2 separate regions of the Homo sapiens genome follow, and region 1 is linked to region 2. The links come from fine-mapping of genetic effects on gene expression. A gene starts in region 2. The other region holds a variant in brackets. All regions are shown on one strand. Distances are between the middles of the regions. Region 1 has its middle 35 kb from the start of CCK. Region 2 holds the start of CCK (cholecystokinin).

Region 1 (15,069 bases), 34 kb after region 2:
CATTACTGGGAGAACTGCACCAAACCATTCATGAAGGATTGGCCCCTATGACCCAAATATTTCCTGCTAGGCCCACCTCCAACACTGGAGGTCACATTTCAACATGAGATTTGGAGAGAACAAAACATCCAAACCATATCACCCACAAGTAGATGAAGCTGTGCTGTATTTTGTATTGAGATACTTGCAAAAGAATTGTTCAGTACACATCAAGCCATGTACCTACAGGCAGAAGAAATTGCCAAATTCCTTGGATTAGATAAAAGAAACTTCAAGGCAACAAGAGGTAGGTGTGACTGATTTATGCATTATGCAGGGTGATTCTCAAGGAATTATGTTTAACAGCAGTATTTTTTTCCTTTAGTGTTTTAATTTATTTATTTGTTTATTTATTTATTTATTGAGATGGAGTTTCACTCTGTCACCCAGGCTGGAGTCCAGTGGTGCGATCTTGGCTCACTGCAACCTCTGCCTCCCCAGTTCAAGTGATTCTCCTGCCTCAGCCTCCTGAATAGGTGGGACTACAGGCAGATGCCACCATGCCCGGCTAATTCTTAGTAGAGATAGGGTTTCACCATGTTGGCCAGGCTGGTCTCAAACTCCTGACCTCAATTGATCGACCTGCCTCAGCCTCCCAAATTGCTGGGATTACAGGCATGAACCACGGCGCCCAGCCCCTTTAGTGTTTTTAAAATAGTGGTATATCTTATAATCAATTGAGTCTTAGAGTCCATGAAATACAGTACATTGAAAATGACACATAACTATTCATTAGCAGCAAATGCTGTCATCACCTATAAAATACATTTAGCAATTGTACACATAACAGGCTCCCCTGTCCCCACAAAACTCTCATACTTCCTTTGTTCTTTGGTCCCTCCTGTAAACAATTCTACAACTAGACAAAACCTATGAGGCAAATGTTTTCAGCACAATGCAGCAGACAATGCAAGTCTCTGATTCTTGAAAGAAGAGAAATTCACATTTGTCCCGGTCCTGGAGGCCCTTCCCAGACTGCAGCAGGAAAGTTGAGCCCCAGTGGAACACAGGGGTCTTTCTGGGTGGAGAAGGCAGAGAATGACATTTGGGGTGTTTGGATTTAGTAGGGAAGGGTGCTAAAAGGAGAGAGTGCACAAGGCAGAGCATTCTGGGCTGTCCATGTGCAGAGCAAGGCTGTCCTGGAATGCAGAGAACTAAGTCAAGATCACAGAAGTAGTGAAGTCCTGGGAAATGTTTGAGTTCCCACACAGTCAGTGTTCAGAGACTTTGCTGAGCACCTCAAGCATTCAGTTGAGATGTCGGAAAAGCCATAATTTAGGAGTAAGGACCACATTCTGGATTGAAGGCCATGTTTCTAGGACTATGGACAAAACTCGAAATACATTGGCCCTAACAAAACCTACCAAATTCTGACTGCATCAAGAGAATCTACCAGTCATTTAACCACCAGTCAGAAAAAACTTAACATTTTTTTTTTGTTGTTTTTTAAGGGAAGACAACATAGTTCAGACTTTGTACAAGGTATCATTTACAATGTCCATCATATAATCAAAAATTATCAGACATGTGAAGCAGGAAAACAGGAACCATAATCAATAGAAAAAGCACTAAATAGATACTCTGAAATAACCTATGTGTTGAAATTAGCAAACGATTTTAAAGTTGTTATTACAAGTATGTTTGAGGATTTAAAAAAAAAGGATTACAAAGTGAGAGAATAGAAGGGTAAGAAGATAAAAATTTTAAGTTATTAAAAATATGCCTAAAATTTTAAGAAAAGATGGACACAATGAGTGAATAGATCAGTAGACCAGAAATTGAAAGAATAAAACTAAAAATAATGGCCAGGCACAATGGCTCATGCCTACAATCCCAGAACTTTGGGAGGCCTACCGCTTTGGGAGGCTAAAGCAAGAGGACCATTTGAGGCCAGGAGTTTGAGACCAGCCTGGGCAACATAATGAGACATTGTCTCTATTTTTTTTTTTTAAAAAAAGGCTGGGTGTGGTGGTTCGCATTTGTAATTCTGGCACTTCGGGAGGCTGAGGTGGGCAGACTACTTGAGCTCAGGAGTTTCTGAGCATCTGGGGCAACACAGGGAGACCCCATATGTAGAAAAAAAATGTAAAAATTAGCTGGACATGGTGGCACGCACCTGTAGTCCCAGCTACTTGGGAGACTGAGGTGGGAGGATTGCCTGAGCCCTGGAGCTCGAGGCTGCAGTAAGCCAAGATTGAGCCACTGCATTTGAACCTGGATGACATAGTGAGACCCTGTCTCAAAAAAAAAAAAAAAGCAAACAAACAAACAAAAAAACAAAAAACAACCAAATGAACAAACAAAAAAAATCCCCGAGAAACACAACAACACAACAACACCGAAAAAAATAGCTCTGGGTTACTCAGGTTACAAGAGTAGTGCCCTGTGGTGGTTAAGAGCACAGACTCTGGATCCAGACTGCCTGGGATCAGATGCTGATTCTTCTCCTTAGCTGTGAAAACTACTTATCCTTTCAGAGCCTTCATTTTGTCATCAGTAAAATGAGGACAAGAACAATAGTGTCTTCCTTTTGGAGCTATTGTGAGAATTAAATGAGATAAATGTAAAGTGCCTCTCTCAGTGCCTGACGCAGACTAAGTATTATTTTTTAAATTATTTCAACTTTTCTAGGGTTCATCTCAGAACTGCAGTGCAACACCCTCTCTTTTTTGTGGCCTTCAGAAGGACCCCCATGTCTCACGTTTGGGCTTAGACCAGACTTTGACAAACAGTTGACTTAGATAACTAAGGTAACTTAGGTAGCAATGGCCACATGCATATGGGACATTTACCAGGGTTTTTGAATTTGTTCAACCTCTCATTTTCCTCCAAGTGGGAAAAATGTGAGATAGTGATTAGGCATGTGTTGATGGGGGTGGGGGAAATAAGTAAGAGAGAGAAAAGAAGAAAAACTCCACAATCAAAAAATGGCCTTATTCCTTAAATTGCTTTTAAATTAAAAACATTTAATATCAGCTTCAATTTTGAGGGGGACTTATTTAAAATGTAGGTCCAAATGCTTCTCTTTTTCCCAGCTGTCAGGAAAATGTGTGTGTGTGTGTGTGTGTGTGTGTGTGTGTGTGTGTTTCTGGGTAAATGTTTCAATTTTTACTGACTTCCTTATAACGTTGGGTGGCCAGGATGCTCCTTGAAATTAAAGTTGGTCACATTGTTTAGGCTGTTCATGATTTGAAGATGCTATCTGAGACTCTATTCTGGCTTTGGGGGTTAATAAAATAATTTTAGCTTGCTTTATCACATCTTAATAAAGTTACTGACTGTTGAGCCAGGCAGAAATATTAATGTAATGAAAAAACAACTGTGCTACAGTATTTCTCAGTTGAAGCAGGGATTTTCCAATGCGAATAAGTGAAATAAACCATGCAGGTAGGTATAGAGGTGCCATTTTCTTAAAACTTTGTCTTAACGTTCATCTAGTCAGTGCCGCCTTTCTAATCACCTCCAAAAGGTAATAGGTAAAATGTAAAACGTGTAAATTAGGAAGATACAGCTACCATTACAACCAAAATCTATAGATACATGGACTGGAAACATAATAGATACATATGGTGGTGAGCTGGGGCTAAAGGTATAGGCATCAGGCCTCCAGGTGCAGAGATAGGCAACAGCAGCACTTCCCATTACTCAGGGAAGTGCAAGCTAAAATTGCTCCATACAAGGCAAGGCTCCAGATCCAGGGTCACCCATGCAAGCCACAAGCTGGTCTGGGGTTTCCTTGCCTGAGAAACAAGGTGAGGAAGGAAAATCATTCCCCATCAATTCCAGGAATTATGTCTTACTTAATCTACCTTCCCAGGGTGGGCAGAGGAAGCAGACAGAACTTCACAGCCAGGACCTGGACCAAGCCTGGGTAAATGGATATGCAGAGTCTCTAATATCATCACAAGGCAGCTGGATGTCCTGGGAGGATGAGCAGAGGCAGCAACAAACCAGTTAGTAGGAAGTAATGTACTTGAGGGATAGGGTGAGAGAGGGAGAAAAGAGAGAGAAGAGGGACATCACTTCGAGACAGGCTAAAAAATAAATTTGAAAACACCGAGGAAAATCAAATTCTAAGAAAAACAGCAATAAAATCAACAATCAAGAGATGAATTCATATCAGATAAAATGAAAATACAGTTGACCCTTGAACATCATGGGGTTAGGTACACTGACCACCCCCCCCAGCCATGCAGTCAAAAATCCACATATAACTTCTGGTTCTCCAAAAACCTACCTGCTAATAGCCAATGTTGACTGGAATCCTTATCAATAACATCAACAGTTGATAAACACATATTTCGTATGTCATATGTATTATATACTATATTCTTACAATAAAATAAGCTGGAGAAAGAAAAATGCTATTAAAAATTATGAAGAAGAGAAAATATATTTACTATTCATTAAGTGGAATTGGATCATCATAAATGTCATCATCGTTGTCATCTTCACTTTGAATAGGCTGAGAAGGAGGAGTAAAAGGAGGGGTTGGTCTTGCTGCATCAGGAGTGGTGGAGGCAGAAGAAAATAAGTGGACCTGAGCAGTTCAAACCTGTGTTGTTCGAGAGTCAACAGCTACAGAGCAATCTGAACACTACATATGCTGAGAATTCTCAAGAGATGAATAAATAGCTGTGGAATGAGAAATTACTGAACAAAAGCAAACAGAAGTGAGACCAGGTAAATATGCTAAGAACCAAATAGAAATCTTAGAAATTGAAAAATAAGGTCATTGAAATAAAAGTCCTATGGACAAGACAAACTCTAATTTTATACTAAGCACTTGGAAAATTAGTCCTAAAGGGTGAATCCAGAATATAGCACAGAAAGAGGGAAGGATAAAACATACACACAAAAACAGGGTAGTTTGACAGTCTTTAGCAAACATCTAAAAGGAGTTCCAGGCCAGGCACAGAGGCTCCTGCTTGTAATTCTGGTATTTTGGGAGGCAAAAGTGGGATGATTTCTTGATGCCAGGAGTTCGAGACCGGCCTGGGAAACATAGCAAGACTTTGTCTCCACAAAAAGGAGGAAAAAATAGCTAGGCATGATGATTCACCTACGTACTTACTCAGGAAGCTGAGGCAAGGGGATTCCTTGAGCCCAGGAGTTCGAGACTGCAGTGTGTGTTATCACACCACTGAACTCCATCCTGAGTGACAGAGCAAGACCCTGTCTCTGAAAAATAAATAAATAAGTAAAAGGAGTCCAAGAAGTGAGTTAGAAAAATGCAGCAAATTAATATTCTAAGAAAATGCTTAGAATTTTCTAGAATTAAAGAAAGACATAAGTCCCTGAATTCATAGTATGTACTAAAAATTATGCAGGATAAAAATAAATCCATATGTAGACACATTTGATGAAAACTGCAGAACATTAAGGATGAAGGAATTAAAAAAAATTTCAGAGAAAGAAAATAAAAATCATGCAAAATAACTATAATGAGCTTGACAATCAGTTTCTCAACAGTAAAAATATTAATAAATTTCAGGAAACAACAGATTAATGTCCTTAAGGTACTGAGGAAAACTAAATGCCAATTTAGAATTGTGCCCCTAGCTAGGCCCCTGATCCTGATGAGGGTCTCTAGGAAAATATCAAGCCACTCATCCTTTCCCCAGCCCACATCAGGCTAACTGTCCAAAGATTTACTAGTGGTCTGGGAACTCAATCATTTAAATCCAAGAAAAGGATGACAAGACATCTCTCTCTGCCTAAACCCAGGGCAGTAGAACCATCTTACATACCATTGTTTGGCAACCAGGGGGAAGAAATTATTATGGTTCTGGGGCCAAAAGGACTGGAGGGGAACAGAGGACTTCTCAAACTCAGCGACCTTCTGAACTCAAATAACCAAACTTGGAATCCACCAGTAAAATTAAATCTGGCAATCTTTCTAGGACTTTCTTCACTTCAAGTTATTCTCACATAACTTCTCTTCAAACTTTCGTCATTGCTATGTCTGATCTATAGGAATAATAGTGGGACAAGAGGATAATTAACTTTCTTCACTGAAACCCTTTGAGACTACCCTCTGTTTCTTGCTGGAACCTGGCAGATCCTCCTCCAAACCAACGGAAAGTTAGGAGTGTTCTGTGACAAAGAGGAATGCCTGGAACCAGGATTGAATACCACCAGCAGTTTGTCTGTCTCTGTCTCTGCCTCTTACATCTCACTCTAGATCTGTTTTTGACACTAGGCCAGAGACACAGGGACATGGATAGCACACGAATAGAGCATTTGAAACAAGATCCCCTTGGCCTGTCTAGTTTCAGCACTGCAGTGGAGGACAGTTCCCTGCTGTGACCTGCTTCCACACAAAACCTCAGGCTTTCACATCAGAGGCAGGAGATTACTTAGCCAGGTGCAGGCACATCCCAGAAGTACAAGGGAGTTACCACTCCCAATCCTCAGTCAATAGTTGACGAGATCGTGTCCCTGGTCCTCTTTTGGGGAGAAAATTGGAGGCACATTTTACATAGTTCCTCAGAGGGTATGCAATGGATTGAGCCCCAGTTGCCCAGAAGTTCACTAATGCCACCTGTCTTAGTCCATTTTGTGCTGCTATAACAGAATACCTGGGACTGAGTTATTTATTTACAAAAACCCAGAAATTTATTTCTTACAGTCCAAGATCAAGACACCAGCATCTGATTAGGGCCTTCTTGCTGTGTCCTTAGATGGCACAAGGCAGAAGAGGGGAAGCAGGAAGAACTCCCATCATCAAGCTCCTTTATAAAGACCCCTAATCCCATTCATGAGGGAGGGGCCTTCATGGCCTAATCACCTCTTAAAGGCACTGCCTCTTAATACTATCATGTCACTGGCAACACCTGAATTTTGGAGGGGACACATTCAAACCATAGCACCATTTGTTGGCTTGTCTCCTTTACCTGTCTTACTTTCCCTTTTTCCTTACATCTGTCTCCTGGGATCACCTCACAAATAAACCTCCTCACTCAAATTCTTGTTTGAGAGTCTGCTTTTGGTAAAACCTAAACCAGACAGAAAAGCTTTCATCTTTCTAGTACAGCATATGGTATGTCATCTTCTGAGAATAAGGGAGAAAGGTCACAGTAGGATGACTCAAGGGAGGTGAGAAACATCAGTGGGGTGGTCATGAAGGGGTCGGTTAAGACTGGAATTCATCCTCTTGAGGAGAGTCTAGCTACGACTGTGTCCACATGGCCCAGGCCAGGAGAGAGCAGGAGGTGGTTGAAGGATGGGAAGACACGTGATGGGAAGGACCTCCAGACACTGCTTCAGGCTGTGGGTTGAGTTTAATTTTCTACATGTCACTTATTTTGGGACCCAGGCTGGATGGGAGGTAGCTTCCTGGGGAATGCTGTTCTGATGACAGATGGCAGAAGCCGAAGAAAGCAAACCAAACCATGCAAGTACATTTAATGCCTTTGGTTGAATGGGCATATGGTACCCCTACTCACATTCCAAGTCACAGATCAAACCCAAAACCAGTGGAGCAAGGGTGTATACATGTATACATGGCCAACAAGAGAGCCTTGGCAAGGACAACAAAGGATGAGGAACAAGTAACACCATCTTTCTGTCCAGCCTACAAAAGGCATGCAGCTGGCTTCTCCCTTTTTCCATAAAGGCACAGGGACACCAAGTGTTGCTCTCTGATGACTGACCGTATCAGCCACATCCCAGCCCCCAAAAAGTCACTTAACACCCAGTTTCCCATGAGTCACTCAAAAATGAATTCCTGAAGTGGTCTTTAAATCTGTGTTCTCACATCCTGTTCCAACCAAGCCTAAACTATGTGCTTCTCTACTTGGCAGTAAGGATCTAAAA[C/T]AAGGCAGAGGGAATGACATCAGGGTGTAGGGTTTCCTTCTCTTCTGCTTTTCTTTGAGTTTAATAATTTTGCAGAAGGTATGTCTCCTCCTTTTGGTATGAGGTTAGAACTGGTTGAATACGCCCTGACACTATGGAGTCACTGGGCTCCCATGAAGGGTCCTGATGGGAGTGGAACCCAGATGGGGGATGTGGCAAAATACTTTACTCATGACAAAGAATGGTGTCTACATCACCAGATTATTGTGGTGTGCGTGTGAGTAGGTGGGGACACACACATGCACACACTGTTCTTTTTCCCTTTCTTCTCCCATTATTGCCTCAGTAGTTGGTAAGTTTTGGATCTGTGTTCCCACTCAAATCTCATGCCAAATTGTAATTCCCAGGGTTGGAGGTGGGGCCTGATGGGAGGTGACTGGATTAGGGGAGGTCTCTAACGGTTTAGCATCATCTCCCAGTGCTGTTCTTGTGATAGAGTTCTCATGAGATCTGGTTGTTTAAAACTATGTAACACCTACTTGCTCTCTCTCTTCCTCCTGCTCCAGCCATGTAAGACATGCCTGTTTTTCCTTCACCTTCCGCCATGATTGAAAGTTTCCTGAGGCTTCCCCGGAAGCCCCTATGCTTCCTGTACAGCCTGCAGAACCATGAGCCAATTAAACCTCTTTTCTTTATAAAGTACCCAGTCTCAGGTGTTTATAGCAATGGGAGAATGGACTAACACAGTGATACTAACAAGGAGGTAGGCTGGCTGTGCCTCAGAGTCAGGAGAAATGGGATGCAATTGTGCATGGACTTGAGAAAAGCATTTGATAAAAACACAATTCTTAGCATAGCACAGAGATGTACAATGTGTATTAATTAACATTTTAGGAGTTGTGGATATTAACTTTCATTGATATATAGTGTATGTTTCATAATACTAATGCAGTCTGTTAAAAATGAGGTTTCAACAACGGTTTCAGGTTTTCAGGAAAGAAAGGAATTATGGAAACTTTTTCTGGTGTGTCTTCCTGCAAAAGTAGGTCTCATTACTTCCACTGACCTTGAGAGAACAGATTTGGCGAGATCAGAATACTTGCCAAAGGCCACACAGTAAAATGGCAGACTGGGGACCAGGGAGGTGTGAGGTTCAATGGTAAAAGAAAGGCCCAGCATAAGCTAGACCTGTTTTTGAGTCACAGGGAATTTTAGCTAGTGTCCCTGTGAATCAGAAGCAGGTCTAGCATGTCTCCTCTTTCTCTTGGATAGAATAGTACTAAGAAAGGAAGAAGGATAAAGAATCTCAAGTTGTGGACTTTTAGAGAGACCAAACCTCAAACTTATCACAGAAAGTGATTATGTAATAGGTTCCACCATTCTGTCATGAGTATCTGTTATCATATATCTAAGTCTCACAGGTCAAGGCAAGAATGGTGATATTTTATTCATCAGTACTTCCCTCACCCTCAGAGTGGTTTTCTGTTCTGTGAAGGTCAAGGTTTCTCTCCACTCTGAAGAAATTAAAAGCTGCCATCGTGATTTTCCTGTGAATGGGGAGGGCAGGCCCATGGCCTTTCCTCCTGCTGCAGAAGGAAGATAGCAGAGGCAGAGGCAGGGCATTCGCCTTTCCACCAAAGCTGAATCTTTTTCCTCCAGATGAATGAGAACTATGGGAGTTCACAAGAGAGAAAAGCTCTGTGACCCTCCAGGTGGCAGGAAGTGGAAGAGGGGTTTTTTCTTCAGACAACAGTCTTTCTGATCGGGCATGCCAGCTCTTCCTGTTCCTCTTTTTAGTGGACTGTGACAGCTTCCCAGCATGCTCTTCTGTCCTTGTTCTGCCAATATAACTCTTCTTCACTTTGGGAAAACCAGTCCATATGGTTTGGATGGGCCTATAATTCTCCTCCTCCCTACCCTCTCAGTCCTAGTCACAGGATGAACAGTGACCACTGATGTTGCCAATCAGAGCACCTCATTCTCTTGGTTGCAGTGATTGGTCCACAAATGAGCACTTAATCCAAGCAGAAACAATCAAAGTTCTTCCACAAGATTTGTTATATTAACAATGAGGCAGCTGCCTCTGTCTTTATCTTGGATAAAGTAAGATGAGTGAGTCTGCTTTATAATGCAGCCAGCACAGAGGATTGAGAGGGGTGAGAGAAAAGGAAAGGGACAGAAGTTGGACAGCATCCTTTAACACCTGAATCCATCTATGCCTGAATGGAGACCAATTACTGGATTTCCTGCCTATAGTAGTCAATAAATTCTAATTCTGTGCAAGCTCATTTGAGCCACGTTCATGTTACATTCAATTACATTTGAACCTTGACTTCTATAAATTCTGTACTGTATTTATCCAGGTGAATGGTGGAAGAAATCTTTTTTTCTTGGGGTGGGAAGGATATTTGTGACTAGAATCAAAGATTCACACTCCTCCTTGGAAAAGGAAATGTGCATACATTGTGTTGATTATCGTCTTTTCCTGCCATCTTCTGCCTTGTGCTGGAGCTAAATGCAATTTGAGCCTTCAGTCTGGAAGGCTCTGGAGTTGTAAAATGCTCAAGGTTTTCACAGTCTCTCTCCACTGCTTCCCCATGCTGATGGAGAGAGAGTTTTAGATCTCTTCCCCTTAACACACAGCTGGGATGCTGCTGGGAAGGAAACAGTTCGTGAACCCCATTTCATCTCAGCAAACATTTAGAATGCGTAAGACTTAGCTGTGGCCTTGAGAATGTCTTGGTGAGGGTGGGGGGATGATCATCCATATGCATGATGTTGAATGTCCTCTTCAGAATATTCACCTATGAAATGTCCCTTGTACTGAGCCAGGTCTGCCTCTCCAATGTCACAGGGTGGCCCACACACAGCTGAACTGCAAGCGTGGTGCTCTCTGGCAGGAACAAACTGCAATCTACTTGATTTCTCTGAGCCCCATTGACAGTGAAGTGGCTACATGATTACAAGGAACTAAGGCTGATTTACAAAGTAGGGCTTGTGCAAAGATGTTACTACTGTGCTTTCAAGCTCTGAGGACTAGGGAGACAAACTATTGGCTTTACAAATTAGTAATACAAGCCTTCTGAAATTAGGCCAGGTCTGAAATAAGTTGAATTAAGAGCTAATAAGGATTTTTAAAACAATTATACCTTCATTAACATATAATTAAAGTACAATAAACTACACATACTTAGAATGTACATCTGTCTACACCCTTGAAGCCATCATCACAATCAAGGTAACAAATATTTCCATCTCCCCTCAAAGTTTTCTGGTGCCCCTTCCTTCCTTTAACCCCCTCCCCATGCAACCCCTGATCTCTTTTCCATTACTTTTGATTAGTTTCCATTTTTTAGAATTGCTAATAACAATGTCAGAGTAAGTTTAAAACAGTGTCTAGGCAGGACCGGGCTGCCTCCTCTGAACAGGTGGGGAAAGCTCCCCTGAATTTGTCCAGTTGAGGGCAGAGGCACTCTCTGCCCCGCTCTAAATTCCTAGTTTTCCTCTCACTGTCCCTTGAGAAACAAGCCATATGCTAGCTGGGGTGGTGGTGTGTGATATGGAAACTTTGCAATAGGAGCTAGCGAGGAAGAGCCAAGCATATTAGGGGGATGGAGTGGAAGATGAGAGGAATAACTTGAAAGGAGGGTGAGAGGTAGACAGGGACTGATCCTGGGCACTACACCTTTGTCAAGGTTAAAATCAAAGAAATGAAATTTAAACTCAAGCACAAGGAATGTAGGAGGATTGCCTTTAAATGCCAATGTCTCTAAACAATGAAGCAAATTGGTAGCAGAAATGGTGAAGTTGCTCCTTGTGGCATTCCATTTTATTTTAAAAAGATATATTCTTATCTTTATGACTCCAAGTAGCCATGGTCCAGTCTAAAGGCAGAGGAATGGACTAAAGATATTCTAAAATCTCATCCAGTTCTGACTGTCATAAAGGTTAAAGTGTTTTACATAAACAAACTTTAAGAGTAGCTGGCCGGGCGTGGTGGCTAACGCCTGAATTCCAGCACTTTGGGAGGCTGAGGTGGGTGGATCACCTGAGGTCAGGAGTTTGAGACCAGCCTGGCCAACATGGTGAAATCCTGTCTCTACTAAAAATACAAATATTATCTGAGCATGGTGGTGCACGCCTGTGATCCCAGCTACTCGGGAGGCTGAGCTGGGAGAATTGTTTGAACCTGGTAGGCGGAGGTTGCAGTGAGCCAACATTGAGCCACTGTACTGCACTCCAGTCTGGGTGACAGAGCGAGACTCGGTCTAAAAAAAAAAAAGTAGCTAATTGAGTGAATATTTATTTATTTAATTTATTTATGAGACGGTCTTGCTCTGTCGCCCAGATTGGAGTGCTATGGCACGATCTCAGCTCACTGCAACTTGAGTGAACATTTAAAAGTGCCTGAACTTAACTTGACAAGGTCCATTTTGAGACTGTGAGTGGTAAAGCCTTTGTGTCAAGATCAGCAGTGATGTGGGACACGGGTCTGTTCCGCATGCCAGCTGCAGTGTGCACACTCTGCTGCTGTCCTGGGACTAGAGATGGGGCAAACATGACCCACCATTGCCATTAATAAACGTAATTTATTACCAATGCCTTTGAAACATAATTTTAGGCTCAATAAGTAGCATCATTAAAACTGTAAGAAGGTATCATTAAAACTGATATTACTTACATGTACAAATAAATCATGCTCAAACTTCCCCCATATATTCTCTCTCAAGCAATAAAAAAATTGATGGATACAATTCTATTGTTGAACAAATATCAACTCTGATATCTTGGCTCTCTTCAATGTTTCAGGGCTACAGGTGGTCACTGTTTGCTATCTGAAATATCATTTTGTTTATCTTTTATAAAGCCACATTGCAATTACATTAGAAATTAATGTCAAATGAATTGGTAATCAATTCTTGAGTGCCTCCTCATCTGGGGAGGCGGTGGAGTACTGGGGGAAGTACCCTGAAGTCATTAAAGGTGGAAAATTCTCCCCTTTGTGGTTTTCCTCACTTTGTGGTGTCAGTGTCTGTGTGCTTGCTTGCTTCTCGAACTGATCCCCAAGGCAGAGGCCATGCCATATTTGTCTTTAAATACTTAGTAGCTAACCCACTGTTAACACATAGCAAGAGCTAAATGAATGTTTATTGAATAAAGGAATGAATGAACCAGAGTTGCTACTGTCAAATATTCATATTTTTTCTAGCTTTTTCATAAAATAGATAAGTGTTTAAAATATTCATGAATAGATTCCCCCCATGGGTTCCTTATTTCCTTAAAGTATGATTCCATGAATTTGATTTTTGAATTAAGGAATATATATTTTATCTTTTTAATGTATTTAATATTGCTTTTAAAGCTGATTTTAAAGTCAATTTATAATTGGAACATCATCAATAATGGGACAACGATTATTATAATACATAGACTTTATGTGTCTCCTAATATAATGCAGTTTGAAATACATAGTGCTATGACATATTTTTTCCCAACATTTTAACCTTAATTTAGAAATAACTTTTAGTCTCAGAAGATGAGTTGTTCTATAAGACATCTGTCTGGTCAGGTCTCTTCAATTGGTCAGTGTCATGAAACAATAAAAAGGGGGGAAAGGGAGGATATTCTAGATGAAAAGAGATTTGAAAGACACAACAACAAAGGCAATCTGTGGACCTTGATTGGGTGTTTGTTCAAACCAATTAGCTAAAAAGTCATTTGGAGAACAATTGGGAACATATAAATATAAAATGAATATTAGATAATATAAAGGATTTTTTTGTTTGTTCGAGACTGAGTCTCAGTCTGTTGCCCAGGCTGGAGTGCAGTGGTGTGATCTCAGCTCACTGGAACCTCCTCCTCCTGGATTCAAGTGATTCTCTTGCCTCAGCCTCCTGAGTATATGGGACTACAGGCATGCACCACCACGCCTGGCTAATTTTTTGTGTTTTTAGTAGAGACAGGGTTTCACCATGTTGGCCAGGCTGGTCTCAAACTCCTAACCTCAAGTGATCTCCCTGCCTTGGCCTTCCAAAGTGCTGGGATTACAGGTGTTAGCCACCACGCCCGGCCAATGCTTTTCTTTCAGGTTGAAGAAATCCCTTTAGCGTTTCTTGTGGGACAGGTCTGGTGTTGAAATCCCTCAGCTTTTGTTTGTCTGGGAATGTCTTTGTTTCTTCCTTCGTGCTTAAAGGATATTTTCACCAGATATATTACTCTAGGGTAAAAGTTTTTTCCTTCAGCACTTTAAACGTGTCATGCCACTCTCTCCTGGCCTATAAGGTTTCACTGAAAAGTCTGCGGCCAGTCATTTTGGAGCTCCATTGTATGTTACATGTTTCTTTTCTCTTGGTGCTTTCAGGATTCTTTATCTTTGACCTTTGGGAGTTTGATTATAAAACGCCTCGAAGTAGTCTTCTTTGGGTTAAATCTGCCTAGTATTCTATAACCTTCTTGTACTTGAATGTTGATATATTTCTCTAGGTGCGAGAAATTCTCTGTTATTACCCCTTTTAGTAAACTTTCTACCCCTATCTCTTTTGCTACCTCCTCCTCAAGGCCAATAACTCTTAGAGTTGCCCATTTGAGGCTACTGGCTATTTTCTAGATCTTGTAGTCATGCTTCATTGTTTCTTTAATCCTTTTTCTTTTGTCTCCTCTGACTGTATATTTTCAAAAAGTCTGTCTTCAAGCTCACTAATTCTTTTTTCTGCTTGATCAATTCTGCTATTAAGAGAATCTCATGCATTCTTCAGCATGTCAGTTGCATTTTCAAATCTAGAATTTCTGCTTGATTCTTTTTAATTATTGTAATCTCTGTTAAATTTATCTGATAGAATTCTAAATTCCTTCTCTGCATTATATTTGAGTTTCCTCAAAAAAGCTATTTTGATTTCTTTGTCTGAAAGGTCATATACCTCTGTTTCTCCAGGCTTGGTCCCTGATAGCTTATTGAATTCATTTGGTGAGATCATGTTTTCTTGGATGATGTTGATACTTGCAGATATTCTTCAGTGTCTGGGCATTGAAGAGTTAGGTATTTGTAGTCTTCACAGCCTAGGCTTGTTTGTACCTGTCTTTCTTGGGAAGGCTTTCTATGTATTCAAAGGGACTTGGGATTCAAGCCCAATAACACCGTGGTTTTTGCAGACTCAGAGGTACCAGCTTTGTGGTCTTGGATAAGACCCAGAAGTCTTCTCTAGATTATCAAGCAAGAATCTCTTGTTTTTTTCC
Region 2 (15,069 bases):
GAAGAAAAATAGCCCCTGCTATTTAATTGTTCATCATTCAGGTGAAATATTACCCTTGAATTCAGGAAAACCTATAGACCCAGTTACCTGTACACAGTCACATGGAAACATGACCCATCCTTCTGCCTGCTGTGATGATGAGTGCCCACTCTAAGGCCTGGGCACAACCCAAATTTCCATCTAATGGAAGCAAGGTGACAGCTTCAATACGAGCAAGCAGCCTCAGTTAACGGTGGGGGCACCATGTTCAGTCATGGAAGCTGCATTTATCACACACCCTGACTTCCCCGTTCCACGTACAGTTCTGTCCTCATGTCATGTGTATTTACCAGGGTCCTCACTCACTTTCCCAGTGCTGACATAGAGTAGGGGCTTACATCTGATGTATGGAATTGATCAAAGCCTGATTCCTATGGGCCACAAGAGATGGACGGGCCTCCCTCTGAATCACACAAAGAATTGGAAGGGGCTTATTGGAAAGCTAGCCTCGGGACTGTCTGCATGTCACTCAGCTAGTGGGCTGCTGAATCACCTTATTCCTGGAGAAAGACTTTGGTGCTGAGAAAACAGTGACTTTCTTAGCTCTTGCTAAAACTGAAGGGTTTAGCTCTTTTAAACTTTAAAATGTGGAATAGGCAGTACAGCTAGGAAGCTGAATGGCTTCCAGGCCCTCCTGGGGGGAGCAGGACTAGATAGAGTCTCAGCCCTGCTGTTGCGTAGATATGCAACTGCATGTAGGTTACTCAGGCTTTTAGAGCCCCAGCTTCCACACTGGCAAAATGGGTATAATAATATTCACTGTGCAGGGCTGTTGTACTGAGAAAGACAATATAGATGTAGCATTGAAGCTTTGCTGGGCATGGGGGAGGCGCACACTAAATGCCTCTAGATATCTTTACCCACTGCCCTCCAATAGAATTGTTTCTTCTTGGGCCATTGAAAGTGCTGCAGATATTTCCTAATGATAAACTCTTAAGTACTGCTCAAAGAATGCATTGTCTTGTTTAGAACTTTTAAGAATAATATATACTATAGTGGAGCAAAAATCTGATATGATCTCAAAATATGTAAAATATTCAAAATATGTAAAATATTCTATATACTGCACATATAGAAACTGTGCAGTATCTATATGTGTAAGTATTTAGTCCTAGTTCATGTTTGTCACATAGAAGAGTTTGCTTGTTTTTTAGCTAGAGTTGATCCTAGGTGTTGGCATCTAAATTTCCAAGTGATTGCTATTCCCTCCTGGGTTTGTTTGGCACAATTGGCTGAAGGCAAAGGGAGAGGGGGGCTGAGAAGAGGGACTAGAAAGAACTTTCCAGCTAAGATTTATGCTATAAGAGCCATTGTCTAGTATTGGTTCTAGGAAATAATTTGGTAATGAGCTTTTTTTTTTTTCTTTTTTTTCCCTAGAGCAATTTTGGAACCAAGACTCAATTCGGCACATTTCAGGCCTTTTTGCAGATATCCTCAGCCTACATAGAAGAAAAACCAGGGTCTTTCCTAAATTGGAGGAGGGGAGTCCAGGTCCACAGTTAAATGAAAAGCCTAGGATATTTCAGACTGGTCTGGCTGAAATTCAGCCTGTATCTGGGGACAGATACTAAATTATTTTCAGGCAGAGAATCAGCAGGAACTCAAAAGCTTTCAGACTTTCTCTCTCCATCTGAGAAGTATTTCTATCTTTTTCAATTTAATTAGCAGGAAAGCAAAACACAAGGTGGTGGGTGGGGCAATTTCCCAAAGACAGGAAGAAATACAACAAATCACTGATTTGTTCTTTCCTTCTGAAGCCTCTGGGTCAGAGTTCCAGTCTTCCCTTCATGTGAACCCACAGAAGAACTCTGCAGAGCCAAAACTCTTCATCTTATCCCTCTCTGGTCAAGCCAGGGGTTAAGGTTCAAATCCAGGCCCTGGAACACCAGTTGGGTAAGAGAGCTTCATGGAAAAGGCAACACACCTACCACATCCCTTCCAGCAGTGTTTGCTAAGTTCTTTTTTTTTTTTTTTTTTTTTTTAGACAGTTTCACTCTTGTTGCTCAGGCCAGAGTGCAATGGCACAATCTCGGCTCACTGCAACCTCCACCTCCCGAGTTCAAGCTACTCTCCTGCTTCAGCCTCCCGTGTAGCTGGGATTACAAGCATGTGCCACCATGCCCAGCTAATTTTGTATTTTTAGTAGAGATGGGGTTTCACCATGTTGGTCAGGCTGGTCTCGAACTCCTGACCTCATGTGATCCACCTGCCTCAGCCCCCCAAAGTGCTGGGATTACAGGTGTGAGCCACTGCTCCTGGCCTGCTGAATTCTTTTAATGTCCAGCTGTGTTTGTACTGTTCAGCACACTGCTCCACAGCCGGTGTTCATCATTAGTGTCACTGGGGATAAAGTTGGCAGAAAAAAGCTGCCCCAATCCAAAGCATGATTCCTATGGGTCACAAGAGATGAATGGGCCTCCCTCTGAATCACACAAAGAATTGGAAGGAGCTTAGGGGAAAGCTAGCCTCAGGTCAGAATTGCCTGCATGCCACTCGGCTAGTGAGCTGCTGAATCACCTTATTCCTGGAGAAAGACTTTGATGCTGAGAAAACTGACTTGCTCAGCTCTTGCTACAACTGTGACCATCTCTGCAACAGTAAAGTAAAAACAAATACCTCTCTTGTTGGGTAATAATTTGTAAGTCATTGCAAGGAGAACACAAAACTGCTGCTGATTCTTTCCTTCTGTTACATACTTTGGTGGAAATGGACACATTGTCACTGCTTTTTTAAACTGTTGTAGCCAGATCTCAGGCATTCTCAGCATTGACCCCTTCCTGCTAGAGGATTTCCAAGGGTTGGTATCTGGGTGGCTCCAAGGTCCTTTGCGTTTTCAGTAGAGGGTATTCACTGTATCTAGGAACCCTTTCCTAGGCTTCAATAATTATCTTTTAATGGCTTGGTAAAATGGTGTTGAACTTAATCAGCAACACTGCTAAAAATTAGTTCAAAGAAAGCTTTTCAAGAAGGTTCCCCTTACTTATAAATTAAGTCCTCCATACCCCTTCTCAGATTGCTACAAAGGACCGCCAGAAATCATGTTGCTTGTTTCCTACCGAGAGAGGTCATCCCCATCAGGCTAGCGCTAGAGAAGAGGGTCAGCATCGGGAGCCTGGGAACAAGGGCAGAAGTGAGGGATGGGGAGGCAGCATTCTTACCTTTCCGGGCCTGCTGGATGTATCTTGCCAGCAGGGCGCCCAGGTGCGCTCGGGACTCGCCATCCGTTCTCTGCGATACCCTCAGCTGCCTACGGGGCGCCTCCTCTGCCCGCTGCAGCCCGGAGCCCGCGGGATCTGCGGGAGGCACCGGCTGCGTCAGGGCGCCAGCCGCCAGTACCGCCATCAGCACGCACAGGCACACGCCGCTGTTCATGGCTGTAGCGAGCAAAGGAGGAGGGCGCGTTAACTGAAAGGCTGGGCAACAGAGCTCCTGCGGCGGGCCGGGCACCCAGAAGCGGGCTTAGGACAAACACAGGTGCTCCAGACCCGCCAGGCCGCCGCAAGCACGAGGGCTCGCCAAGCGCTGACCCCAGCCGAGTGCCATGGCGCGCGCCCCCGGGCGCACCTGGCTGGTCTTTGGGAACTCCTCACCCAGCGCCAAGGGGCAGAGACCCTGTTTTCTGCCGTGTTGAGCAGAAGGAATGTTTTTGCTTTCCTAAAGTTTGAGGAAGTGTTTGCAGAGTGCCTCTCTTCTAACCGAAAGAAGAAAAATAAAACCCCACGAGATTAAAAATAGTGTGAAAAAAATATCCTAAAGGGAAGACTCCGTGGGAGAAATGAGAACCCTGGGGAAAGCACTTTTCCAGATAGCTAACAAGCTTTCAATATGGAAATACAGTAAATGATGAAAAAGAGAAGCACAGTTTAAAATGTAGGAGCAATAAATAAAGCCGTATTTATAAAGTTTTTCTCAAAGTGTACGTGGGAAATGGCAATAAGCCACTACGCAGAACATAGGCAGGTTTTAAAATCAGAAATATGTGCCCAGCGCTCAGGCTTCGAAAGCCCCGTGCATTTTAGATCGCTAGTGGATAAAACACCCTCAAGTTTCTATCCGTAAAGCCTCGAAATTTTCTGCAGTATTTAGAAAATGAATTTAAATCTTAAAACCCTCTAATATTTTATTAGAAAAGATTGCAAAGTCCCCCGCACCGCTGTGTAACAGCTAGCAAACTCAATCTGCATGCGAATCTTAGCGAATGGGTAGTTCATCCCTTAATGATGCTGGCGTATGAAAGGCTCTAAAGCAGCTCTACCCACCCAGACCTCACTTTTAGACCCAGAGCCGTTATTTCTGACTTCAAGAAATGTCTTTCGAGCTCTCGGAGGGAAGACACAGAAAATAGAAAAGCATAATGGAAATGGGCACAAAGCTGAAGACAGCATCCTTCAAAGACACACGACACTTGGATCCCCCGCTGACGAACCGAGGGACCTACCTTTTGGATTAGGACGCAGCTGGCTTGGCGTTTCCAACCGGAGCAGCCCGGCAGCTGAGCCAAGTTCAGGGAGGACCAGCGGGCGGCTGTCTCTTAAATAGCCCCACCCGGCGGCGTCGGCCAGTCATGTATTTACCCAACGCTGACGCAGACTGGCAGTAACACGTGCTCAGAGGGCGGCCACTGGGGCGACAACCGGTTGAAGTGGCTCCTGGGAGAGAGGGGGAGGTGGTCTAGTGGGGTGGAGTTAATCCCTCCCACGCGCGGTGCCGGGTGTCCGCCCCCTCTGGGTCCGAGAAGCTTCCGCCCAACCCTTTCCAGGTGCCGCTCCCCTGCGCATTCCAGAGCAGTACTCTCCAAGGTGGGAAACCTAGGAGTTTGGAGTCTCCTCCGGGATGGAGAAGCTGCCGCTAGCTTAGTTCGCTTTGGGGACCGGAGGGGCTAGAAAGGAAACTGGGGGCGGGGGTGGGGGGTGGACACTGGGCAGGACTGAGCATCAGCAAGGCGTGATTCTGAAAGGGAGGGGGCGTCGGCCCCCTACCCCGGAGCGTCCGAGGCGCTGGTCTTCATACCTGTGTCGGCTCTTTCGAAGGAGAGAGGAGGAGTCGGGGTCTTCACTTTCTTCTCAGCCGCATTAAAAGCCCTCGCAGTTCTCCAGGTTTCCGAGGGCCAGTGTTCTGGGTCAGTGAAAGGGCTCTGGCCACAGCTGGCTCTTGGTGTCCTGGGCCTCTCTTGACGCAGCTGTAAAATGCGGATGACACCATCTGGTTTTGCTCAGAGGAATCCGGTTTGGGAAAGGGATGTGTTTTCTTCCCGGGCCAAGTTACCACCACCCGCGGCGCCCACTGTTCCCCGTTGTCGACAAGCGGCGCCAGCGAGGGTCCTGGGGAACTTGACCACCGCACCCCCGCAAGCTCGGGTAGACCACGGCATCCGCCCCTCGCACCTTTCCTGAGGGCCCACACACTCACACCCCCAGGACAGTACCTTCCAGAACTCAGCTGCGCAGCCTGGAGGTGAGGACCTCACCCCTAGTCAGTCACCCGTCCGGTGGAGGGAAGGGAGGCACCGAGGCTGCCGTGCGCCTTTCCCTGCACGCGGTTACTCTCCCGGCTCCGGAGCGGGCCGACCTGGAGCCCCTCAGTGCGCTCTGGTCGTCTACACCCTGAAACCCTTTGAGTTCGAGTCCGCTTGCTGGTGCTTGAGTTCGCCGCGTCCCTGCAAAGGCACTGCCAACCCCATTTCACAGACCGCAAACCGAGGCGCGAGGAAGAGCAGCGCCTTGCCAAGGCTCCACAACACGCCCCTCGCCCTCTCCGTGCACCGAGGCCGCCCAGCCTGGGACCTGGAGATCACCAGGCCTTGAACCTTGGGACCTCAACTCCTCTCCCTTTCTTTCCCCCACCCGTCTTAGATGCAAGGAGAAAGATTTAGAAGCGCTTATTTTAAAATCGGAATCCGTATTCCGCTCTGGAATTCCCTCTGGAATGGAGGGACTGTGGCAACGCCAGTGTGAGGGTGGAGTGGGCGAGGCGGGGTGGGGGGGTTGGGGGGGCGGCCCAGAGACGCCTCCGGTTGCTGCTCCACTTTCTAATCCTGAGAGGCAGCTGCGTTTCTGCAACCTATGGGCAACATGTTTGAAAGAGCTGAAGCTGATTAAATGCTTTCCAGTGGTTTCGCCACGAGCCTGCTAAGGTTTGTGTAGTTCAGTTGCGAAAAAGAGTCTTATTTGTGATTGTGGCAAGACATGTCTGGAAACATAAACTTGTTATCGAAATACCCCCAGAGCTTCTAATTCAGTAGGTCTGAGGAAGGGCCCAAGAATCCGAATTCCTTCCTTCCTTCCTTCCTTCCTTCCTTCCTTCCTTCCTTCCTTTCTTCCTCCTTCCCTCCTTCCCTCCCTCCCTCCCTTCCTTCCTCCCTCCCTCCCTCCCTTCCTCCCTCCTTCCCTCCCTCTCTCCCCTTCCCTCTTTCCCTCTCTCCCTTCCTTCCTTCCTTCCTTCCTTCCTTCCTTCCTTCCTTCCCTCCCTCCTTCCTTCCTTCCTTCCCCCCTCCCTCCCTCCGTCTCTCCTTCTCCCTCTTTCCCTCTTTCTCTCTCTCTTTCTTTCTTTCTTCTTTATTTCTTTCTTTCTTTCTTCATTTCCTTCCTTCCTTCCTTCCTTCCTTCCTTCCTTCCTTCCTTCCTTCCTTCCTTTCCTTGCCTTTCCTTCTTTGAGACAGAGTCTCACTCTGTCGCCCAGGCTGGAGTACAGTGGCATGATCTCGGCTCACTGCAACCTCTGCCTCCCAGGTTCAAACGATTCTCCTGCCTCAGCCTCCCCAGCGGCTGGGATTACAGGCATGTGCAGCCATGCCTGGCTAATTTTTATATTTTTAGTAGAGACAAGGGTTCACCATGTTGGCTAGGTTGGTCTCGAACTTCTGACCTCAGGTGATCTACCCACCTTGGCCTCCCAAAATGCTGGGACTACAGGCGTGAGCCACCACGCCCCACCAAGAATCTACATTTCTAACAAGTTCCCAGGCCATACTGAAAATGCTAGTCCGCCAAGCACACTTTGAGATCATTTCTATAGAAATTCCCTACCTTATACCAGTTACTCAACTCCTGGCCTTGATCCATTTAATTCATGTTTATTCAACACTTACTTTGTGCCAGGCCCCAGGGATTCAGTATGAACAAGAGCTGACAATACAATAGGGGAGCTGAAGCAAACAAGTGGACAAACACTTCTCAACAATTCTGATATTTGGGGACTATGGAGTGGAGATGGTAGGAGGTAATCTTGGAGAAATGTTTTGGTGAGGGGAGCTAGGTGGTAATATGGAAGATGCCCAAAAGGCAGAGGGACTGGAAGGGGAGGGCTGGATAGGAGGCCCTCGGGGATGGGCAAGCAGGAACAATCAAGGTAGATTTGTTTTAGAATAATAAGCCATTATGAAACCCATTAATTATTAGGAAACATAATAAACATTATGCAAGTCATAAGTGTTCATCAGAGAACATTCAGAAAACAAAAGTAGAGAAAAGAAGAAAAATTCCAGCCTCCCAGGGAACAACCTGTTGCTGCTCAGGAAACTGGTAGAGGGAACCGGACTTGGTGACTGAGACTGACCTTGAGTTTCCAGGCTGGGAGACAAGGGTGGGTGGTAGAGTATTATCCAAGACAGGGAATTCAGAAGGAAAAGCAGGCTTGGAGTGTGGCCGTGGTGGTAGTGGGCCAGTGGGGAGCGGGTAATGAGTCCAGTATGGGATTGGTTGATCGTTTGTGCATTGACAGTCTAGGAGGAGTTTGGGAGCCTTTGTCCTGAGCAGAGAGACACTGGAGGGGTGGACCCAGAGTCTGGCATGTGGGTGGTGGCTGCCAGCCTGGGAGTTATAGGGAGAGTTGAGGAAGGCAGCTAGCAATGGGTGGCAGGGTGCCTCTAGACAGACCGCTGAGGAGTGACAGCGTGAAGGAGTGGGTGGAGGAAAAAGAGCTGGTACAGAACCAGACAAGTGGGCCAAGGAGGCCAGCGTGGAAATGCCAGTGCAGAGCCAGAGGTGACAGGGACCATCAGAAGCTGAAGAAGGGCTTGTGCATGGGCCTTTCTCATTTACGATCAAGAGAGCTGCTTGCCTCTTTATTGTAAAATAAAGCAGTTGTAGCCGCTTGTCTCTCAGGAGTGGAAATTCTGAGCAGGAAATGTGTGATAGAAGAGCTGCTAGGAAAATAGAAAGACATAAGGGATCTGAACTCCTTGGCCATAGTCATGATTTTTCCTTCTTACAGGGTCAACAGGTACTAATTATTCTGACTATGGTTCCTAAGCAAGTTAGGCCTGGAGCCGACACTATTCCTGTAATCCAGATGCATATCCGCATTAAAGATAATCCATTTGTTCACTTAAAAAAATGGGCTTGATGTCTCCTGAGGCAGATGCCTTTGGTGCTCCTCACCACAGTTCCACGTTCTCCCTCTGGCTTCAGCTGCAGCCTAGCCAGGCTGGGCAGTTTTCAGCAGACAGCATTCCCACTTCAAGCTTTCAAAGCACCCCTCTTGGCTTATCTCCTTCAAAGTTCAGCCCTTGCAGAGGTTCAGCCTGTAAGTTTGGGTGTTATCTCCCCGAAAGACAATCTTCAGCCAGTGGGGAATGGGAACCCCAGTCTCTCTGTATGAACCCTTCTGGAAGCTTCTAAAGACTTCTCAACGGTCCTTTGCCTGTATCGGTGAACTTGATAACAGCTCTCTCTCTCTTTTTTTTTTCTCTCTCTCTCTCCCTCTCTCTCTTTAGACAGGGTCTTACTCCGTCACCCAGGCTGGAGTGCAGTGGTGCAAACCCGGCTTCCTGGCTTAAACAATCTTCCCACTTCAGCCTCCTGAGTAGCTGGGAACACAGGTGCACACCACCATACTCTGCTAATACTTTAATTTTTTGTAGAGACAGGGTCTCACCATGTTGCCTAGGCTTGTCTCAAATTCCTAGGCTCAAGTAATCCTCCCTTCTCAGTCTCCCAAAGTGTTGGGATTACAAGTGTGAGCCACCAAGCCCAGCTGATAACATCTCTTTAGTTGTTTTTTCCTCCTTCTTTGTCTTACTCTTCTCATTTCTTCCTCCTCTCCCAAATAAACGACATGTACTCAAGTCTGTCTAATTTTAGTATAACCCTATCAAAGACACCAACTGTCTTTCGGGCACTGTTGGGATTCAGTGGTGAGCAAGACAGACAAAATCCCTGTGCTTGTGATGCTTCCATTCTAGTGGAGGAGACAGACAATTTAAAAAATACACAGCAGGCATGGAAGGTGCACACATGTTTTCAAGAAAAGTAGAGTAGGGGGAGGGTCTGTGGAGGACTGGGCACCCGCATGAACGTATGCAAACCACTGCTGGGGGATGCCCTGTTAGGCTGTCTGCTGTGTAGACCTTGCTATGTATGTACATTATGGAGAAATGGTTTTGCTTTTCAGTCCAAATAGAGAAAAAGGAAGTTGTATGGGAGTTCGCACTGTTTGGAGATTGTTTTGTATTTCATCAAATGTGAGACGGTAACTAACTTTTCTGCCAAGCTCATTCTCTTGTCTCAGAAAAGGAATGGAAAAGGCAGTGCCCTCTGTGTCCTTCCCACCACCACCCACTCTTCCCCATCATGGAATGAGACGCACCAGCTGGTCCCTGCCTTTATCTGGAGGACTGAGAGTGGAGGGTGCCATATCCAGATGCCGCGTTGGAAAGGAAATAGTGGAGAGAGGAAACCTGTGACTGTTCACTGGTTTGGAGTCTAGAAATTCCCATCTGATTGCGGTGAAATGAATTTAAGTAAGATCTTGCTCAGAGTTGGGGAGGTATCCCCGAAGATTAGTTCCTGAAACAGATATATTTTCAATACACGATTTTTTTAGTCATGAGACCTAGCTCAAAGACATATGTCAATTTTGTATGTGTAGAAAACTTAGTGGAATTTCCAGGGACATGCTAGAGCCTCCTGATTTATTATTCATAGAATTTAAGCTTGTTACAAGCAAGCCCCACTTACCAGAAGGCAGGAGGCTATTTGCTGTGATCAGAAACGTGATGGTTAGAAGGCTTCTTTTTTGGGTCTTTTTTTTTCCTGAACATGTATTAAAATATTATTATTTGTCCTGGAATTTTTCAAAGTCCACATAGCCAATATCATCTGCCAATATCTGGAATGATTAGACTGAAAAAAGGGAAGTAACTATGGTCATGGTGAAGTGTTTCCTTTTCCTAACGATGAATTTCTTTAGAATATCTTGTCATAGTTTGGGTTCCTACAAAAGCAGAGCCTGGGACAGCACCTGGTTACAGGTAATTTATTTGAGAGTGATTCCAAGGGAGCAGGAGTAAGGGAGAAGGGAAGAGAGAAGACAGTGAAGTATTGAGTACAGTGGATGACTGCTGTGGACCCAATCCCCTGGGGACTCTCTGAGATACCTCTTGGAACATGGCTCATAGCCAGCCTACTTGAGGCCAGAAGGAGAGCCGGAGCACCAACTCCCATTTCCCATTAGTTGAGGGCTGTTCCAGCAGGTGTTAGCTCCCTCTCACTTCCAAATAGGCTTACCTGCTCCTGCAGAGCCAGAGAAAGCCCTCAGGCAGAGAAGAGATAAGCAGATGGCTGAGGTGGGAATAGCTACATGAGAGGGAACATGAAGGGGAAATCAATAGTGGCTGTGTTACTGTCAACTCAGGGTGCTATAACAAGTACCATGGACTGGTGGCTTAAACAATGGACATTTATTTTTCACAGTTCTGAAGACTGGGACATTTGAGATTAGGGTGCCAGCATGGCGGGGTCCTGGTGAAGGCTCTTTTCCTGGCTTACTGATGGACTACTTCTTGCTGTATCCACACGTGGCAGAGAGAGGGAGGTTGGGGGGTGGGGAGAGAGAGAGCAAGAGTGCTAGCTCTCCGGTGTCTCTTCTTATAAAGACATTAATCCTATCATGAGGGTCCTCCCCCATCTGACTTCATCTAAACCTAATCACCATCACCTTCCAAAGTCCCCACCTCCTAATACCATCACATTGGGGGTTAGGGCTTTGTACGAGAAAATCAAATCTCGGAAATCTCAAGATCCCCAAACTCATTATGTCAAGGGGAGAGTTAAGCCTAGAGACTGAGCCATGCAACACTGCCTTTCTTTTTCCTGAAACAAACATCTACAGAGAAGCAGACGGCTGAGGTGGGAATAGCTACAGGTGAGGGAACATAAAAGGTACATTAACAGAGATTGTGTCACTGTCACCTCAGGATGCTATAACAAAATACCACAGACTGGGTGGCTTAAACAACAGACACAACCCTGTGTTTTCATAGCTTTATACATAAGCCAGGTTCCCACAATGATGAACGGCCTTCCACCTCTCTGGATGGTCACCCTCACAAATTGCTCACAAGGGAATTCCTTGCAGGTCTCTAAATCATTCAAGACACATATCCCCCTGTAAAACAAGCACACACCAATTGTAACTTTAGGTCTGTAAGCCAAGTTTAACTCCTAAAACTGAGCTCTCTTCAATTTTATCCTGACAATGTCGTTTATAAGCTTATCTTCCCAGGTACAAATGAAATGGCTTGGCTGTGTCCCCATCCACATCTCATCTTGAATTCCCACATGTTGTTGGAGGGACCCAGTGGGGGGTAATTGAATTATGGGGGCAGGTCTTTCTCATGCTGTTCTTGTGATTGAGAATAAGTCTCATGAGATCTGATGGTTTTATAAGGTTGATTTTCCCTGCACAAGCTCTCCCTTTGCTTGCTGCCATCCATGTAAGATGTGACTTGCTCCTCCTTGCCTTCTGCCATGATTGTGAGGCCTCCCCAGCCATGTGTAAGTGCATTAAACCCTTTTTCCTGTATAAATTACCCAGTCTTGGGTATGTCTTTATCAGTAGGGTGAAAGTGGACTAATACACAAGGACAAGATAAGATCAATCACTTTTCTGCCTGCCCTGAGATGGCTGCATCATCAACTTTTTCCCATACTCCCTCTTTTCAGATGTTTACCTTATGTAGAGTGTAGATTATTTGAGCATCAATCAGAGCCTCAGAAGTAGATAGCTGTTTGCCTCACTGCCTACACCCTTCCCTTCTTTTCTCCTGCTTGCTCCTTCCCTTTAAATACTGAGTTTCCTGGAAAGGACAGGTTGCAGATGCTTCTGTGGCTTGTGTTTTTCCCAGGTGCATCCTCACACTTTGGCTCAATAAACCTGTACTGGGATTTAGACACTTGCCACAGTCACTCACTTTTTGGTTAACAGTTTCAACATATGAATTTGGGGAGACACAAACATTCCGCCCATAACAGAGTAAAACATCCCTGTAAATTAACATTTTATTTGTTCACTGGCATTTCTATAAGGTTGGTGGAATAAAGGAATCCTAAATCTGGGGTGGACCTTGAGGACCCTCTTGTTCAAGGGTCACAAATTCCAACACCACCCAAGGGAGTGAAGAGGGCTGTGGGTGAGAAGAGCAAGAGAAAAAGCACAGAGATCATGGGCAAGTGAAGCTATGGGTGGTGGTTAACCTCCTGGGGCACTCTAGGGGCCAGAGCAGAACGTGGGCCTCAGAGCCATCTCACCCTAGGGTGCGAAGGTGCGTGCATGTCTATACATCAACTCCACTCACTCACTGGCTAAGGGAAGCTCCTGGGGCATTCATTCCCTAGCACTTCTGGCCCACTGAGGATCCAGCCCCCAATGGAAGCCTTCAGAGAAGAGGTGCAGATGCTGGTGACCAGAAGCTGGGCCTGCAAGCACCATGATAGTGAGGCCCGAGGGAATATGAGTGGGGCAGCCACGGAGCCACTACACTCTCCTAACACTTTGCATGTACTCAATGTTAGCATTTACCATATTGTATCTTAATTTCCTACAATAGGGCTTGGGACATAGCTGCTCAATGAATATTTGTTGAATGAACTCTTCATCTGTATGAACGTCTCATCTGCCATCTGACATGCAGGAAAGCAGGAATTGTGATTTATTCACTCAAATGCAAGAATTGTGCTGGACACATGCTAAGTGACCAATAAATGTTCACCAAATTCAGCTGTTAGTTTCATCAGTTTAGTTGACTGGACTTACAAGATGGATAGCTATGAATTAAAAGCCATTTGCTGACCCTTGGTTGGATTGTGGACTCCCAATTAGCCACAGGAATTGTTCTTAGCACCATTTCATTTAGCCAGGGTTAGAAAAGCCACCAGAAATGGGAGATCACCTCGTGAATGGATGACAGGAATGAGAGGTCAGATCCCAGCTGATTGAGCTCTCTGCAGAAGAAGCTTTCCTTTTGCTTTTCAAACTAATATTGAAAAGCCAAAAGAGGAACCGTAGTTGCCAGGGAAACCAGCCACCAGTGTCCTCAGGCCTGTTGCTTAGTTCACTTTCTTTTGAGGAAGGTTTAGAAGAGGCCTCCATGGCTCTCCTTGGGAAGTGTTAGCAAACAGTGAGACTTGAAGTACTTGAAGGGCAGTCTGGGAGTCTTTGTGGTCCTGCTGATCCAGCTTCTCTCTGAAGCTGAGGTCCCCTCACAGCAGAGGGCAAGTCTGTGTCCTCTGGAATGGTCCCAGCCCCCAGCAGAGACATCTCCTACCTTACCAACCTGCCTGGTGCCTGCATGGTGGCCATGGGCCCTCCGTTGAACTAAGGCTTTGGGACACAGCTGTTCCAGGACAACCTTATCAGAAAAGGCTCATAGTTTTAAAATTTAAAATAAAATGGTTTGAATAAGTATTAAGTGCATATAATTCAAAATTTAAAAGGTGCAAAGGGGTATATAGTGAAAATCAATTTTTCCCCTCACTCTTCTTCCTCCACCATGCAGAGGCAAGGAGTGCTTTAGCGTTTAGTAAATTCTTCCAGATAAAGTCAATGCACATACAAGCACATCAATAAGTATCAAAGAAATACACACACACACACACACACACACACACACACAGTCTCCAAATGGAAGCATAAAATACAAAATGTTCTCTATTTTACTTTTTTCACTTAAAATATGTATTTGAGTTAGGTCAGTTTATACTGTTAGCATAATTCTACCTCAATATCTGTAAACTATTCCATTGTATGGGTGTACCTGAATTCATCTAGCCAGGGCCCTATTCATAGAAATTTAAGTAGCTTCCAATATTTTCCAATTATAACCAATGCTTCTTGAATATACATCATTCTGTACATGCACAAGTTTACCTATGGGATGAGTTTCTGGAAGTGGAACTGCTGAGTTAAAGCATATGTACATTTAGCATGTTGGTGAATATTGCCAAGTTGCTCTCTTTGGCAGTTGTTCCCAACTGTCAAAGAGAGCATCTTTATCTTTTTTTTTCTCAGCCCTTTTATTATAGAATGTATTTTATATTTGTATTAGTCCATTTTCACACTGCTTATAAAGACATACCTGAGACTGGGAAATTTACAAAAGAAAGAGGTTTAATTGGATTTACAGTTCCAAGTGGCTGGGGAAGCCCCACAATCATGGCAGAAGGCAAGGAGGAGCAAGTCACATCTTACATGAATGGCAGCAGGCAAAGAGAGAGCTTATGTAGGCAAACTCCCGTTTTTTAAAACCATGAAATATCATGAGACCCATTCACTGTTACCAGAACAGTGCAGGAAAGAGCCACCCCCATAATTCAATCACCTCCCACTGGGTTCCTCCCTGGACATGTGGGAATTATGGGAGTTACAATTCAAGATGAGATTTGAGTGGGGACACAGAGCCAAACCATATCAATATTTATATTATATTTGGGCATTATATTGATTTTTAAAAATATCGTGGGTATAGCATCAAAGATAAACAAAACTGGACAGTAGTTAAGGTGATAAGGACAGGTTTTAATCAGTGATATTTTATTGCAATAGGGAAAAGAGTCAAGCGTGAACTGAATGCAATTTGAATTTGTAGAGAGGTGACCGGATGTTTTAAAGGGAGAAGAGGGAATAGGAAGGAGGTTAAGCAGGATTTCAATAGAGTCAGGAAAATGAAAAATTACAAAAAGTGGGACACAGGTGATGGTGGGGGGTGCAATGGTCCATTTGAAACCCATCTGGGCTTGTAAACTGGTACTTTTC

Evidence for each region. PIP is the estimated chance that this variant, and not a neighbour inherited with it, causes the effect.
Region 1: its variant is fine-mapped to the expression of CCK in fibroblasts (GTEx, PIP 0.99).

What each region holds. Positions count from the first base shown.
Region 1 is chr3:42,293,852-42,308,920 of GRCh38, forward strand. No RefSeq gene overlaps it. Among named protein-coding and RNA genes, the nearest start is that of CCK, 35 kb to the left of the region's middle. The variant C/T (reference allele first, on the strand shown) is at 7,858.
Region 2 is chr3:42,260,220-42,275,288 of GRCh38, forward strand. CCK (cholecystokinin) reads right to left here and starts at 5,966. Exons shown (of 5, transcript NM_000729.6): 1 at 5,465-5,966; 2 at 5,050-5,218; 3 at 4,478-4,688; 4 at 3,198-3,413. The coding sequence starts at 3,411.